Linked DNA regions of Homo sapiens: region 2 is linked to region 1. Evidence: fine-mapped expression QTL. Tissue or cell type: nasal epithelium. Region 1 holds a variant in brackets; the other region holds the start of a gene. All regions are shown on one strand. Distances are between the middles of the regions.

Region 1 (4,247 bases):
ATCCACTTGATATTGGCTAAAGCATACCTGCGTTTCCAGTGAAATGGTAAGCAAGCTCGGATTTTATCCTCCTCAGAGTCTAATACAATGCTAAAGGCATAAGAAATTTTTAATGTATGATTTCTGAATTTAAATAGAATTAAATTTTATAGATAATCATTATATATGATATATGACTGTATATTGTATACATATATAATAATGAATACTTTTTATTAAGCCGTTGCTACATGTCAGGCAGTGCGATAAGCACTTCATATTACCTTATATAGTCTTCCAATAGATCTCTGAGGTGAATCTCACTGTTATCTCCATTTGGCAGGTGGGGAAACAGAGATTTATATACATTGAGTAACCTGCCCAGAATCACACAGAGAGGCAGAGCTGGGGTGCACACCCAGGTTTATCTGATGCTAGAGCTTATATTCTCGACCACATTTCATCCACGTTCAGAGGAGAAGCTTCAAATGAATCTTCTTCCTCCTGCATCCCAGGAATATTAGCCATATCATCACTTTGGTCATATACTAATGTCATTGCATGACATGAACATGTGCCCAGGGCCTGGCATACAGAAGCCCAGTCATTATTTGTTGAATTGATAAAGATGAAGGAATGAGATCAAGAATTCTATTCAATTCTCTTTTAATATATGTCAATATCTAGTAATAAGTGTTTGTTTGTGATGACTGTATCTGTCAGGGTCAAATGAAACATATGGCACCCTATAGTTAAAATAATTCCAGGAGGAAGTTCTGAGTGGGCTGTAGAAAATCACAAGGGATAGTGCAGCACCCCTCAGCCAGTGAAAGTAAGGTTGTCAGCCCACCCCTCCCACCCCAAGATTGGGGAATAGAGGAAGAGCTTTTAATAGATCCCAGAAGGGTCATGTGGAGAGGGCTCCCTTGGGAGCAGTTTCTGTCCTTTGGTTGAAGAATGTAACCAGGCTGTGATGAACTCACAGGCAGGAGCCAGGGAAATAAACAGCTCCACCTCACACTTCTCACTCCCTCTGCCTCTCAGCTGAGGTTTCCCACTGGCTGAACTTAACCAGAAGGTTACAGCCTCTGACTGCAGTTCAGTTAGGTGAGCCTCTTGAGGTTCTATAAATCGTTATTTTTATTTTGATGATAATATAGAAATTGTTGAATTCCACTTAAATCGTGGAAGGGTGGGGGTGGAGATTGAATCTAGAAAGTGGTTCTTAAAGATCTCCCCATCATCTCCTGCGAACCCAAGCCTAGGGCATGGTTGATTAACCCAGGGTGACAATGCTCTAGGCCAGGACAATGAGAGTCTTTTTTTGGAATTTTTATTTTAAACTGCAAGTAGGAAAAAAGAGTCAGCCTCTTTCTGGTGGCAAAAGTTACCATGTGACTCTGAGGACCTGCTGGAGGACATGTTTTTCATGGTGGTAAGGAGGCCAGGCCACCAAAAGAGAAGAAAGTGCACATAGGTTAGTGCTGGAAAGAGGGTCCTGGTGGCACTTGAGTCTGTTTCCAGTAGTTCCCGTTGTACAGTGCTACCAATGTCCTTTCCATACTTCGCTTAGATTAAAAAAAAAGTCATTAACCAGATCCTGTTTTGAAAATACTTTGAAATATGGTAATGAAGTATTCTTTTCTTACTTCTTTGTTACCTTTCCCCTAAACATCCAGAATCATCCATCAATGTTCAGTTTCTGACTTCTGAAATAAGCTCCTAAAACTAGTTTCAGAGTAAACTGATGTGAATGGCAAAGCTTTTCTTCTTTCTCGAGATTTTTTTTTTCCTTAGGAGAAAAAACGTGTTTTAGAAATCAAAAGGCAAAGACCTGAAGGATCA[A/G]GACAAAAAAAATTTTAAAAACAAACAAAACTTGTCCTTAAAAAGTAGATAAAGATAAGTTTACTTAATGTATGTGGGCCTCCACTACCCCACATTGGGGTAATAATAATAATTACTACATTTTTTTTTGTTAGAATTAAATGAGACAATAAATTGAATATGTTTAGAACAGTGCTTGTCACACAATAAAACACTCCTTAGATATGTGATCTTATTAGTGTTATTGCTGTTATTGTAGTTATTGCATGCTGAAGGAAGAATTGGGGATTTACCTTGCTGAGAAGGCAGCAAGATGAAAGAGGACGTAAGTCTGGAGACAGTGAGGCCTGTGGGATTAGGAAGGACCCCATGTGGTGGTGTAAAATCAATGCTGAGAGATTGACAGGCTCTAAGAAAACCTGACATAGAGACAGGGCCTGAGCACTTCATGGAAGCTGAACTCAAATAATCTCTCTCTTTCTCTCTCAATATTTTGGATCTACTTTCTACTGTGCTGGCTTCATTCTCAAGGCAGGCTGTCTTGATGTGGTAGCAAAGATGGCCGCCAATCTAGTTTGGCTCGGTGCTCGCAGTCCATGTTTGCAAACAACCAGGTGCCACTATACTCAGTTCCAGAAAAAGTCCTGTGGAAAACTTATTCCATAATTAATATGAAGTTACAATGAATATCATGGAAGGCTTTTATTCTTAGTGATCTATAGTAAGGTCCTTGAGTCAGTCACTTTCAGGAGTAGTAACATGATGAATGGAGAGATTTAAACATATAACATCATTTGAGTCTCATAGCATCCATGTGATGTATAGACTATTATCCCTATTTACAAGTGAAGACACTGAGATTCAATGATGCTAAATACCTTGCTCAAGGAATTAGCAAAATTAGTATTCAAATTCAGATACGACAGATGCCACAGCCTGCATTTTCTTTTATATTTGTTTTAGTAATTAATGAGAAATATATAAATGGTATTTTATTAAAAGAAACACACTTTCCTTTTCTATTCCCTTTTCTCCTCTCATGAATGATACTCATGTTTCATCTCATTTTTTGTAGCTGTAATTATTTATGTAAATGCTCTCATTTAAGATGTGTTTAGATGAGGCAAACATTATTGAATGGAATGAAAAATTAATTAAACATAATAGTGCTGGTGATTGGCTGATATTTCCCTCTACTTTTCTGGCCAGTATTACATTGTAAAGATATGATAAACTATTTACCAAAGTCCCACTGATATAGTTTGGATATTTGTCCCCTTCAAATCTCATATTGAAATGTGATCCCCAGTGTTGGAGGTGGGGCCTGGTGGGAGGTGTTGGGGCCAGGAAGGTGGATCCCTCATGAATGGCTTGGTGCTGTCCCAGCGGTAATTACTGAGTTCTTGCTCTATAGTTCTTCCTCTATTAGTTCACATGAGAGCTGGGTGTTTAAAACAGCCTGGCACCTCTCTTGTTCCCTCTCTTGCCATGTGACATGCCAACTCTCCTTCCCTTCTGCCATGCCTAAAAGCTTACTGAGGTCTTACCAGAAGCAGATGTTGGCACCACGTTTCCTGTATAGTCTCTAGAACCATGAGCCAAATAAACCTGTTTTCTTTATAAATTACAGTCTCAGGTATTTCTTTATAGCAATGCAAAAACGGACTAATACACTCACAAAATACCTTTCATATGTGAAATAAACCCAGAAACAAGTAGAAGTGGAAACACAGTTTTGATTAAGTATTAATAAAATGGCTGGTTGAATGCTATAAAAAGGGAATTGTCAAGCATAAAATATTTTAATTATTAAAAAATTCACATAGACTATTGTAGGAAAATACAGGTATATTTCATCTATACTAAGCTTTTTCTAAAATTACTTTTCTAATGTGGTTCATACTCAGTACTTCTAAAACTGATAAGATGCTTTATTTGAGAAAACAAGTTGCAAAAAATATCCTTATGTAGAAACACAGAGATTCACATTTCACTGGCCCTGTCTTGTTCAAATCTGATTCAAACCCTTCCAGCATGCACAGTTCAAAGTCATAGACACCCCATGGCTAAGAACTTTTAGTTGCAAGTGAGGGAAAACCTGACCCAAACTTAGCTTGCCTAACTGAAAAGTTAAAGGGTAGCCAATTGGATTTAGGACTCAAATGATGACACCAGGATTCTGTTGTTTTCTCTCAGTTTCAAGTCAGGGCAAGGTGGCAGATCCTGCCAGAGCCCCTACATTCCTTCAAGTTTCAGGGCTTTATGTTCTTCTGCAACAGGCCAAACAACATTTTCTGAATTTAATCTCAAAGTCTTTGATTGGATTCACCATGGTTATATGCCATCCTAGAATCAGTCACTGCTCTATCTATAAAGCCAGTGCCAGCTTCATTAGAATGCTAGGATCAAAAGTGGTGATGTTGGTGGAATTTCAAAGGAAATTT
Region 2 (4,247 bases), 22 kb after region 1:
TTTTAATTTTTTGTAGAGATAGGGTCTATGTTGCCCAGGCTGGTCTTGAACTCCTGGGATCAAGCAATCCTGCTTCAGCCTCCCAAAGTGCTGGGATTACAGGCATGAGCCACTCTACCTGGCCTATTTTATTATTTTAGAGACAGGATCTAGCTCTTGTTACCCAGGCTGGAGTGCAGTGGCATGATCATAGCTCACCGTAACTTCAAACTCCTGGGCTCAAGCGGTCCACCCACCTCAGCCTCCCTAGTAGCTAGGACTACAGGCCTGCACCACCATGCCTAGCTAATTTTTAAACATTTTTGTAGAGACAAGATCTTTCTGTGTTGCCCAGGCTGGCCTTAATCTCCTGGCCTTAAGTGATCCTCCTGCCTTGGCCTCCCAAAGTGCTGGAATTACAGGCATCAACCACTGTGCCTGACCCACCATGACTTTAAAAAATAAAATTAGGGGTAGGGAGCTAGAAAATAAATAAATAAATAAAAATTAAAATTAACCTTGCTTTCCCAAAGATTTTTTGTTGTTTGTTTTGTTTTCTCGAGCAACATTTACATAGTTTGTAAAGAGCAAATAGGACTTAACTTTTAAATAAATAATTTATTGGAAAACTCCCTCCTTCCTACTAATACTTGTTAAAAAGCTGGTAGTAGCAATGGACTTCCCAGAACTTGGACTATAACTCTAATAATGCCCTCATTGTCTACCTACAAATTTAAGTATTCATTTAAATTATTTCATAATCTATAAATGTGAGAGCCCCGATAAGGAAATACTGTGCTAGACACCAAAGCATAAAAATAGAAGAGAATCCATGCCTTCAAGGAGCTGGCAGTTGAGTAGGTAGGGCACACAAGAACATACCCTAAAACCCAGTGGCATCAATGTCAGAGCAGAGGTGCTGTGTGTGGGTGAGGCAGGCAGCGTGGTGTGTGTGTGCACGTGAGTGTGAGCGTCCTTGAGTGTGTACCTGTGAGTGTGCATCTCTGTGTGTGCAGGTGCCTGTGTGTATAAGTGTGTCTGTGTTCGTGTGTACGAAGGTGAGTGTGTTTATGAGTGTGGAAAGACACACAGCCTGATTAGGTGGGTCATTCAGGTTTTGCTGCAAAGCCACATAGACCCATCTCGGCCTCAGCTGTTTCCAAAGCTGCCCTGCAGGCCGCCCCCTCCCCAAGAAAGGCCAGAGTTGGGACCTGGAGGTCCTCATGGGTGCGGCCAGCCACAGGAAGACCGCCCCGGGTCAGGGGATGACCTTGCTGGCCGGCTCTGCGTTGGCCATCACTCTTGAAGCCCAGCCCCCAGCCATGCAATGGGGCAGGGGACGAACCGTTGGGACCGACTTTCAGTTCCCAAATTTGGGATCATTTTTTCTTATGTGTTGGGGAGAGGAGGAATAAGGTGGCGGAGAGATCGGGGCCAAGTAGGGCCATTTCTCAACAAAGGGCCGATCCCTTGCCCCCTATCCTTCCTTTGGGGTCCAGACGCGCTGCAGAGAGAGGCGACCCTACCTGCAGCAGGGAGGCTTCGCCCGGAGCCTCCCAGACCTCCGGCACTGCAGACACTGCGCGCGGCGCGGCTCCCGCGTCCCAGGCTTCATTCAGCCGGCGGCCGCCCGCGCACTCTCCCTGGACTCTGAGGCCGGTCTCCAGGGTGACCTCAAACAGAGCCCTCGGCCCTCCCCGGCCGGACTTGGCCGCTGAGTGGCCCTCTGAGCTGCCCTAAGGATGTAGAGGATCTCATCTTCACTGCCCACTGGGGGTCACTCTGAGCCGGGCTGCGTCCTGGGTTGGCGGCGAGCTGGAGGGGAACTGGTTCATTGTGTAGCGAGGAAGACATTTGGGACTAAAGACATTTGCACCCCTAGGGCCCCTCATCAAGTTCCTTTTCCCGCAGACATCAGGGGCAGGAGTGGGAAGTGCTGCGGTTTCCTAGCACAGGAAATCCGAAGCGCAAAGACAAAGTAAAGTAGCCCTGCCCTTTTCCCGGCTCCTAACGCTGCTTCGCACGTTCCCCCTCCAAGGCACAGGCGGTGGAATGTGGAGGTAAATGAGCACTTACATTGGCCAGATACCCCAGATACCGACAAACATTGGGATTTAGTCGTCCCAATAACTCTGTCAAGAAAGGAATGTTTTCCCTTTAAAGGATTTGGAAAATTGAGATTCTAAAATGTTAAATAATATGCCCAAGGCCCCTGAAACTCATGGTCTTAACTCCAATGTGTTACAAACCGGGCTGGGTTCCTTCGCTTTCCTTAACAAGACTCTTCTGAGCCTGTTAATGTCTAAGAAGCTTTGAAATGAGGCTGTTTGGGGTTGAGGACCTACCTGCTGGTATGAATGGGCTTTTCCTCTTCTTCAGCGACTATCCCCAGCCTAAGCCTGGTTTGGGCCTCCCCAAACCAAAAGCAAACAAAATAAACACTATAGGGACCCTCCTGTAGTGGGCAATCATTGGAAGCAGAAACAAGATGCCTCCAAGCATCTAGCCAAGGGCATGGCTCTTGATGAGTGTCCTGCTGGAATTAGCATTAGCTGACAGTAATACATTGGGATTCCGGTGGAGCACAGTGTTAGGATAGTGTTGGAAGAAGAGAAATAGATATTTTTGCCCATCCCAATCTCTACTCACAGAAAGATAAGAACAGGAAAGGATTGTTGATTGAATATCTACTATGGACTAGATAGGAACTGCTAGGTGATGAATAAACATTATCTCATTGAATTTGTTCAGTGACTATGACATAGGGGACATTACTCTATTTTTTTTTAAGATAAGGAAATGTAGAATCGTTGAGTAACATGCTCAAGTCGATATTTAAATCACAGAGCTGAAATTTGTCTAACTCTTAACCCTTGACCTTTGACAGACCTTTGGCCCACCATCCCTACCCTAAACATGGAATGAAGTTTTCCAGAAATGCGGGTAAAATTTTAAGAGGCTGACAGCAAAAGATATTCACAATTCAATTTATTTTCATATTTTTCATTTATTTTCCAGAAAAAGAAATCACATTTCAGTAACAACTTACATATAGAATTAAACTTTGTTCTGGAATGGGAGCCCTAGTTGCAGTAACGTGTCATAATAAATAATTGCATATTCAGGATTTTGTGAAATAGGTGATTGGGAAAATTATGAACAAAAAACATTTACAAAAATTATTATTTACAAAGAGTGATATCCATACTATTTCTAACTTATAAGGCAAGTAATGTTAAGATGGTCTCATGATTATCTTCAACAAGTCAATTACACACTTTCCTGTCACCATTGCCCAGCAGAGAGCTTTGCTGCAATTCTGTGAAGGAGCAAGTAAGTCTTCGCTTCCGTTGTTGGTTTTCTCTTGAGCACAGCATAGAAGCAGTAAAGCTTTCATTACAGACTAAGCAGTAATGGCTGTCAGAAAAAAGTATACTCTTTTGAAATAGACGTGTAGGAAAAAGGCTGGGAATCAACATTTTGACTAAATTTTGAAAGTATCTTGAGTATTTTAATTCACAGTTTTGTAAGTATTTTATGCCCAAGGTATTTTTGTGAAATTATGTACTTAGTACAAGATTAAAAAGAAATTTAGTGTATTTTTGCTACATAGATCAAAGAGAGCTCTAAATAAAGGCTACCACCAAATCAAATTACACACAGCATTTTCCTTAATTGACAGGATTTCATTACCTATAGAAACACAGCAAAATCTTTCTGAGATTCCTAGATTCTTGCATTGTTCAAGTTTAAAAAAAATCAATGCCTTACATGGCCACTTAGTAAGAATGAAAATTAATATCCGAGTATTTAATTCATATGATCTTTTACTATACAAGTGAAAAACAAACAAAAACTCTTTTTAATCGAAAACAATAGTGTTCAAACAGCTTAAAAAGCCAGCTGTATACATTACTGCTTGGCCTGTGGTGAAGCTCTGTTCATAGATAAGATTAATATATCATCATATCAACACTTGGCTTTTTCAAGAAAAATTATTCAGCAGCAATTTTCCAATTCCCCTTAGACAGAGAGGAAAGAGACACACACACACACACACACACACACACACACCCCCACACACACACAGAGAAAGAGAGAGAGAGAGAGAGAGAATATGAATTAGATAGGAGCCAATCTCTTTCATGTATGTCCATTTAACAAAGCAAGAACTAAATTCTGACCTGAAAAATCAACACAGCTATATGAATTATCATTCTAGCAACTTGAAAAGGGAAAAAAATCTGACTTTGGATCTTGGGACAGTG

What was found. PIP is the estimated chance that this variant, and not a neighbour inherited with it, causes the effect.
Region 2: DYNLT5 starts here. The variant in region 1 is fine-mapped to the expression of DYNLT5 in nasal epithelium (TOPMed, PIP above 0.99). The same link has a PIP of 0.9 or more in skeletal muscle and unexposed skin.

Annotation. Positions count from the first base shown.
Region 1 is chr1:66,771,357-66,775,603 of GRCh38, reverse strand. All of the region lies in intron 3 of DYNLT5 (dynein light chain Tctex-type family member 5), which reads right to left. Among named protein-coding and RNA genes, the nearest start is that of DYNLT5, 21 kb to the right of the region's middle. The variant A/G (reference allele first, on the strand shown) is at 1,825.
Region 2 is chr1:66,749,843-66,754,089 of GRCh38, reverse strand. It overlaps DYNLT5 (dynein light chain Tctex-type family member 5), which reads right to left and starts at 1,631. Exons shown (of 5, transcript NM_152665.3): 1 at 1,506-1,631. SGIP1 (SH3GL interacting endocytic adaptor 1) reads right to left here. Exons shown (of 25, transcript NM_032291.4): 25 at 2,951-4,247.